Homo sapiens: one gene and its partner. The protein of the gene in region 1 purifies or fractionates together with the protein of each later gene. This does not show direct contact. Each region holds a gene or a part of one and is shown on either strand. Other genes may lie near its edges.

The links. Proteins that work in one complex are often made in the same cells at the same time.
Region 2: the proteins of BORA (region 1) and OBI1 purify together in Homo sapiens (affinity purification with mass spectrometry; one large-scale study listed by BioGRID and IntAct). This does not show direct contact.

What each region holds. Positions count from the first base shown.
Region 1 is NC_000013.11:72,734,423-72,737,922, reverse strand, and holds part of BORA (protein aurora borealis), read right to left. Parts: intron 2,964-3,500; coding exon 2,918-2,963; intron 1-2,917. UniProt on the Homo sapiens protein: Required for the activation of AURKA at the onset of mitosis.
Region 2 is NC_000013.11:78,656,356-78,660,311, forward strand, and holds the start of OBI1 (ORC ubiquitin ligase 1), read right to left. Parts: upstream 2,801-3,956; 5' UTR 2,766-2,800; coding exon 2,694-2,765; intron 1-2,693. UniProt on the Homo sapiens protein: E3 ubiquitin ligase essential for DNA replication origin activation during S phase.

The DNA of each region.
Region 1 (3,500 bases):
CCCAAAATGTGAGACGGTACCTGTGTTTTTCCAAGTAATTATTAAACATGTCATATACTAACTTTATAACTGTATGCAAAAATTTTAATACAAATGACCAAAGGAAAAATGGAAGAAATTTAAAGTATATATAAAGAGGAATCTTAATACTTCAAATCAACCAGTTAAATTTGAAACTTGCAAACTAAACTAAGAGGATTAATCATAGACAAAGTATTTTAAATTTCTTTCCCAGGTTTTTTTGATGGGGTTACAAAAAAAAGGATGAAAAGGGAAGGAATATATTAAGACAGAGACATGCAAGTAGGCCAGTATGAATGACGGCACTGAAGCTGGCTTGTTTGTTCTGGCTCTCAAGATCTGATTATTAAATTTTCAAGAATTCTGTGCACCAGTTGTTAAAACCAATATTAAAAATAAAATTATGTAAACTTACAATTAAATATATTAAAAATAAAGGTAACAAATATCCAAAACTCACCACTTGCTAATTATTTTATATATTTATCAATGTCTATGCTCTTGAGGTTAATAATGTATTTTGTATCTGTATGGTGGAATTCCTACATATAATGGTGTGCCACTATTCTTCCTTTCCCATTCAGTGATGTCACATCAGTAGCTTGAAACTGGCCATGGTTGGAGTACTTACACTATGGATAGCAGGAATCGCTATAAATCGTACTCCTTCCACGACCAGAGAGCAAGTTGTTAAACATTCACCAGCACACTACTGGCCAGTATATTCAAATGAGATAGAGCATTTGTATACTTTTCTTTCCTCTTTCATTTCTACCACAGTGTTTTCCCTTCCCTAGGTTTTGCAAGTAACCAAACATATTTTCTTCATATTTTGCTATACATATGACAAAGAGCTAATTTTCTTAACTAAATTACCCATGAATCTAAGAGGAAAAGATTCTTTTTTTTTTTTTTTTTAAAGGTGGACTGGGGCAGATATAGACAATTACCAGAAAAAAAATTAAAGGACCTATAAACTTACAAAGTGATGTATAAGTTCACTCAAAAGTAAAGAAATACAAAAAAAAAAAGTCATTTTTAAAGTAATAGGAGTAGAACAAATTAAGAATTCTGATAATAATCAATATTGGAGATATGGAAAATCAAGCAGTGTCACACTGTAATCAGGAGTATAAACTGGTATAACCTTTTAGGAGGGCAATATGGTAAAATCTACCAAAACTGAAAATTCACAAAGCCTCTGACTTACTAGGTCCATTTCAAGAATATAAAGATATATATACAAATCACTGCAGCATTATTTGTGACAGAAAAATAATAAACACAATTTAAACATCTGTCAACAGGGGCTAGGTAACTATGCTGTTGCTAAGAGAATGTAAAAATCTGTATATGCTGGTTATCAAAAATTTCTAAGAAAAATCATGAAGCAAAAAAAGGAGGATGCAGTATGAGAACGATAATAGTATGAGAATGATAATCCTATTTGTCGAAAATATTTTAAGGACATATGCTATTAAATAAGTAAAATTAATCTGAAAGTACACATAAGAAATGTTATAGTCATTACCTTCATGAAGTGGGATGGGGAAACAGGAGGCTTTTTATTTTATATTTTTTCTTTTTGTTTTTACTATATGTATATGTTTCTTCTATTTTCAAAAATATATATTGAAAAGAAACAAATTTTCTTAAGTTTACCTGCTGGGTTTCTCTTTAAAATTAAGGATTCTTAAAGAAAGTATTTTTTCAAAATGTTGGAAATTTTGAGAGTCTGAGAATATTCAGGTGGGGAAGAACCAAGTGACTGAGTCAGAATGAAAACTGTGCAGTTACTAGATAGAAGAAGAAGTAGGTAATGTTTAGCAGGAGTAAACATAGTCTTTTGTGGTACGGAAGAGCCAAGTACGGCTAAGGAACAGAGGAGGGTTGAGGGGGCTAGAGGGGCAGAAAAGTAAAAATCAGAAATGCTGCCATCACATAAAGACTTTCTGAGGAAAGAACAAGGTAAGTAACCCTTACTTAGATGCTGGGCCAGGCGCAGTGGCTCACGCCTGTAATCCCAGCACTTTGGGAGGCCAAGGTAGGCGGATCATCTGAGGTCGGGAGTTCGAGACCAGCTTGACCAAGATGGAGAAATCCCGTCTCTACTAAAAATACAAAATTAGCTGCGTGTGGTGGCGCATGCCTGTAATCCCAGCTACTCGGGAGACTGAGGCAGGAGAATCACTTGAACCTGGGAGGCGGAGACTGCAGTGGGCTGAGATCATGCCATTGCACTCCAGCCTGGGCAACAAGAACGAAACGCCGTCTCAAAAAACAAAAAATAATAATAATAATAACCTTATTTAGATGCTAAGAAAGGCAATTCAACAGACATAAAAAAGCAAAAAACTTAATTATTTTTATTTTTTAGAAAGCCTACATTATGATATACCTTTCCTGTTTAACAGTAAGAGATTTTATTTCATGAATATCTTAAAAATCCAAAGTATTAACAAAAAAAGACAAAGCCATTCCCAATGCCAATCTAGACTCTGAAGGCCTGAGAATATTCGACTTCCTCTACATAAACTCCAACTTGAAACAAAGTTTGTGCTAATCAACATTTTGAAGGCACAAGGAAGACAAATTGTGCTAGGTCCTGAGAATGAAAGGATGAAGTACAGTATTGGCCAAAAAAGATTGCGTCTAGGGGACAGAAACACTAAACTGATCATTACAACAGTATGCAAGTGCTATGCAAGGTACTGGGATAGCTGGAAATTATTGGTCTTAGGACAGTACAGAAGGGTGCTTTATATAGATGGGACTGTGAAGGGCTTGGAGGGGAGATAGGACAGTGAAGGAATTGAAGAAAGTCTTCCTAAAAGAAGTGATGTACATGCAGAATTGATCCTTAACTGATTTAATGATCAGTAACAGTTTAAGTTACCTCTTCAATGGCTTTTTGTCTTTTGTCTTCCACATCTTTATCTATTCTATACAAAGATAAAGAAGAAAAATAACCATGCTATTACTTAAGCTTATTGAACATTTTAAAAAATAACCTTTCAAATAAATAATCTCCCTTCATTGAAAACTGGCAAATGTTAAGCTCACTTTATAATTAATACTAGTGGTATCTTGTAACATTTAGTAACATTTAGGCAGTATTCTGAAATTCAGCAGTTAGCTGTTAGGCTTACCTCCCTCTTTTCCATTCAAAGTTTGAATGCAATGATACTTTATTTCAAAAGACTTACATTGATATTAAATTGCTTTTAACAATATAAATTTGATAAACTTTGTCCCTTAATACAAATTAAGAAGTATTTAATTCAACATACATCTAAAAATTGTCCAAAGTTTTTCTCTTCAATTATAACAAGTTTATCATGGCAATAATTTTAGAATCAACTTTTACTGTAAAATAGATGAGGATAGTTCACAGTTCTAAACAGTCAAAAATATTAACTCTGAAATAAAACACTGACAATATAACATTTTTTCCAAATGAATTTTTTTTTCACTTTGAT
Region 2 (3,956 bases), 5.9 Mb from region 1:
GGCAGATCACCTAGTTCGGGAGTTCAAGACCAGCCTGACCAACATGGAGAAACCCCGTCTCTACCAAAAATACAAAATTTGCCGGGCGTGGTGGCGCATGCCTGTAATCCCAGCTACTCAGGAGGCTGAGGCAGGAGAATTGCTTGAACCCGGGAGGCGGAGGTTGCGGTGAGCCGAGATCGCGCCATTGCTCTCCAGCCCGGGCAACAAGAGCGAAACTCCGTCTCAGAAAAAAAGAAAAAAAAAAGAAAAAAAGTTAAGTAACTTGTAAAAGGTTGTATGAGTGGTAAGTGGTAGATTAGATTAGAACCCGGCTAGCCTGAATGTAGAACTCAGGCCCTCAGTCACATATCCTTTCTGCTTCCATGGTACCTGGGGGGGGGGGGGGAGGAGCCTGTTTAAAAATCCTTAATTAATTAATTTTCTTTTATTTTTAATTTTTTTTTTTTTTTTTTTTTTGAGACAAAGTCTCACTCTTGTTGCCCAGGCTGGAGTGCAATGGCGCGATCTCAGCTCACTACAACCTCCGCCTCCCAGGTTCAAGCAATTCTCCTGCCTCAACTGGGATTACAGGCGCCTGCCACCACACCCAGCAAATTTTGTATTTTTAGTAGCGATGGGGTTTCACCATATTGGCCATGCTGGTCTCAAACTCCTGACCTCAGGCGATCTGCCCGCCTCGGCCTCCCAAAGTGCTGGGATTACAGGCGTGAGCCACCGCGCCTGGCTTAACCTTTTTGAGCCTGTTTCCTTATCTGTAACAGTAGAAATATGGTAATAACATCAACTCCCCATCCTTTCTGTTTTCAGAAGATTAAATGAAGCATGTGCAAAGTTTAGCATAAAGTCTGGCACATAAGATTAAGACAAAAGTCTTAATCTTTTTATTTTTATTATCTGATTTTTATTTCAGAATAAAGTTAACCAATACAGGAAAAAAAAAACACTAAAAATGCCTGATGTCATGGATGAACTTAGGTGAGGGTTTTACGAAGTAATCTGAAGACAAATGGTAATAATGATAGAGGTTCAACTATGAAGACTCAAAGTCTTAGTATTCTGAAGACACAAATGATAGTATAGAGGTTCAACCACAGACTCTAAGCTTTAATATTCTTATTTTAAAAATGGAAAAACCAGCCCTATCTTAAAGCATTGGTGTGAAGAGTAAACAAAATAATATATGCATACAAAAGCACTCTGTAGTCTGCAAATCACTATATTCTATGAGGTATCACTCTCGTTAAATACAAAAAGTATAGGTTTGGTAAATCAAACAGAACACTGTCAATACAATTGCAAAAGACAGCCTATAACTAATGGAAACTATATATAATGTGTACAAAATACTTCCCAAGAATATTTTTATCAGCCTTTAAAGCCAGTGTTGGAGGAAATTAACTCAGAATTTAACACATATTTCCAGGAACTTTATGTCAGGAGCCAAATGTAGACTGTGGCAAATAGAAACATCGCTTCTTCCCTCCCCCTAGCCGTGCAGGCAGTAAGTAATAGCTCAATGCCAGCTCAAACACCATCCTCGATGAGGCCATCCTTGATCTCTCCAAATTGATCAAGCCATCCCCAATCCATGATCTCCCAGCACATTTGCTATTTCATTGGCATTTCATTCTGACTGCTATCCAGAATTATCAGTTGCTTCCAATGCTGACTTTCTTCTACTTTTTGAATCCAGTAAATTCACACAGAACTTCAAACACCCCAGGCAGATCGTATTGGCCGGCACTCAAATGCTTGCTCTAGAAGTTTGTATTTCTCAAATCTGAGTCTACGGCTCAGTCTGCGCTGGGGGGTAAACACACACCCTGACACACCACAGACGTAAAAATAATTCAGGGTGGAAAAAAGTTGGTGGTTTATCTTTCCCCTTCTTTATCTATTCGGTAAAGAAATGCTCTTTAAAACACCGAAAGTGAGGCACAAATGGAAATGAAAGAGGAGAGGAATGCATTAGAATATTCAAAGCTCCGTTTCTAATTCAGAACCACTTTCCCTACCTTGTTTCACAAACACACTAGGCACCTCTTGCATCACAAAGAGAGAGTATTCTATCTCCTGACTGACCCATTCTTGGAGTTAAAAGCCACACCTCTTATTCTAATACCCTCCAGGAGCACTTACTATTTACTTTTCAAATTAGGAATTCAGAGCAAAGGTCATCCTCAAGGCCAGGATAAAGGCAAAAGGTCTTGGAAATGGAAAAGACTCAATACACAGCACCGTAGGCCCCAGAGGATGAACACTAGTTACAGAGGACTAAGAAGCCCGAGGTGAGGCTCCCAGGAAATGTGTTTTAATGGGCTTCACTACACGCCACGCGAGGCTGCAGAGGGAAGTTAAATATCCCTGCGATGCGTTTCTGATGGGGCCTCCTTCGAGGCCGGTGTCTTGCCAGTGTGAGGCCGCGGGCGGTGGCAGGGCCGTCTCGCCGCCCTCCCGGCAGACCACGGGCCGCTGTCACCCTCCTCCGAAAGGCGCCCAGATGAATCCATTAATCACGGTGCGCTACCCCCATCTCCCAGGACGCGGCCTCCCATCAAGAACGCGGGTTAGCGTTTTCTCCCATCTCCGCGCCTCACGCCCCTTCCCCGCCCCCGCACGAGACGGCCCTCGGCCCCGGCGAGCGACTTATCCAACCCCGTTTTGTAGCTGTGCCCACAATCACCCATTACCTTCCCCAAGCAAATGTGGCACGTGATGGGCAGAGTGAGCGACAATGTAACATTCTGCACGGTCTGAGCCATGGCAGCGTTCAGAATCCCGCCAACACGGAAGTCCCGCCGACCTACCGCTACTCTTCGCCAAGACTGGGCACGCGCGGGCCGGCTACGGCGCCCCGGTAGGGCCATAACCCGCCCAGGAGAGAAAACGAAAACGCGCTTTCGAAACGCGCGATCTCCAAGGCGTTTTCCTTTCATTAAAAAAAAAAAAAAAAAAAAGAAAGAAAGAAAGAAAGAAAGAAAATTCACTGATTAGGGAGCTGCAAGATTCCTGCGAATGTGTAGGAAGGTAGTTTACTACAAGTATCGAGGATCTTGGAAAATCTAAAGGAAAGCGGAATAGTGGAGACAGAAGAGGAAGATACGGAAAGGCGATTTTTTAAATCCCCAAATTGTTTTCGGGGATTGGATGGGGTGAAGGATGGAGAGTTTTTCGCCTAATTATTAAACCCCACACATCCGCCAACACAGCGTAATCAAAACATAGAGAAAAGACATTATCTACACGTTTCAATTTTTTTCAAAACAGCTTTCCACCTCTGTCAGTTCTCTTTCCACTCAATATAATGTGCTTCCAGAGGGCACAATAATTCACTTAAGAAAACAGTGATTGTCTCCTTATCTGTGTCCGAGACGATCCTGATACATTTAATCGCAGCTTTCCCTGAAAATACATTTTTACTGTGGGCTTCTCTGGGTTTTCCACCAAAAGGAGATTAACGTTTTCACGTCTTCATTTCAGGTGCATGGTTGCATATGAAATGTACCGCTGTGTTGTTGAACCCCAAGGGAGAATTTGTGAGGTTATAAGTTGCGTTTCCTACCAACAAAAAAGAAAAAAACCTAAAAGTTCCTAAATTTATCTTAAATGCAGTATAACAAATTTGGAATTTATCTGCAACTTACTTGAAGCGAGGAAGAGCTGATGTGATAAATTACGCTAACAAGTAAAATCTGTGAGTTGAGAGATTTAAAGACAAGACCATCGGGACAACTTTTACTAATCTTTGTGAAAAAGACGCAGTATGACTTCAAGAAGCAGCCTCATGGTTAAGAGAAAGGGGTTCTGGACCTGGGCTGCTTCAGCGGAAATCCCTGCCCCCAACAACTTCCTACCTAAACGGTAGCTCCATGGCTTCTGGCAACTTTTGTTTTGTTTTTTGAGATAGGGTCTAGCTCTGTCACCACTAGGTGCCAACACAGCGACCTCCCAGG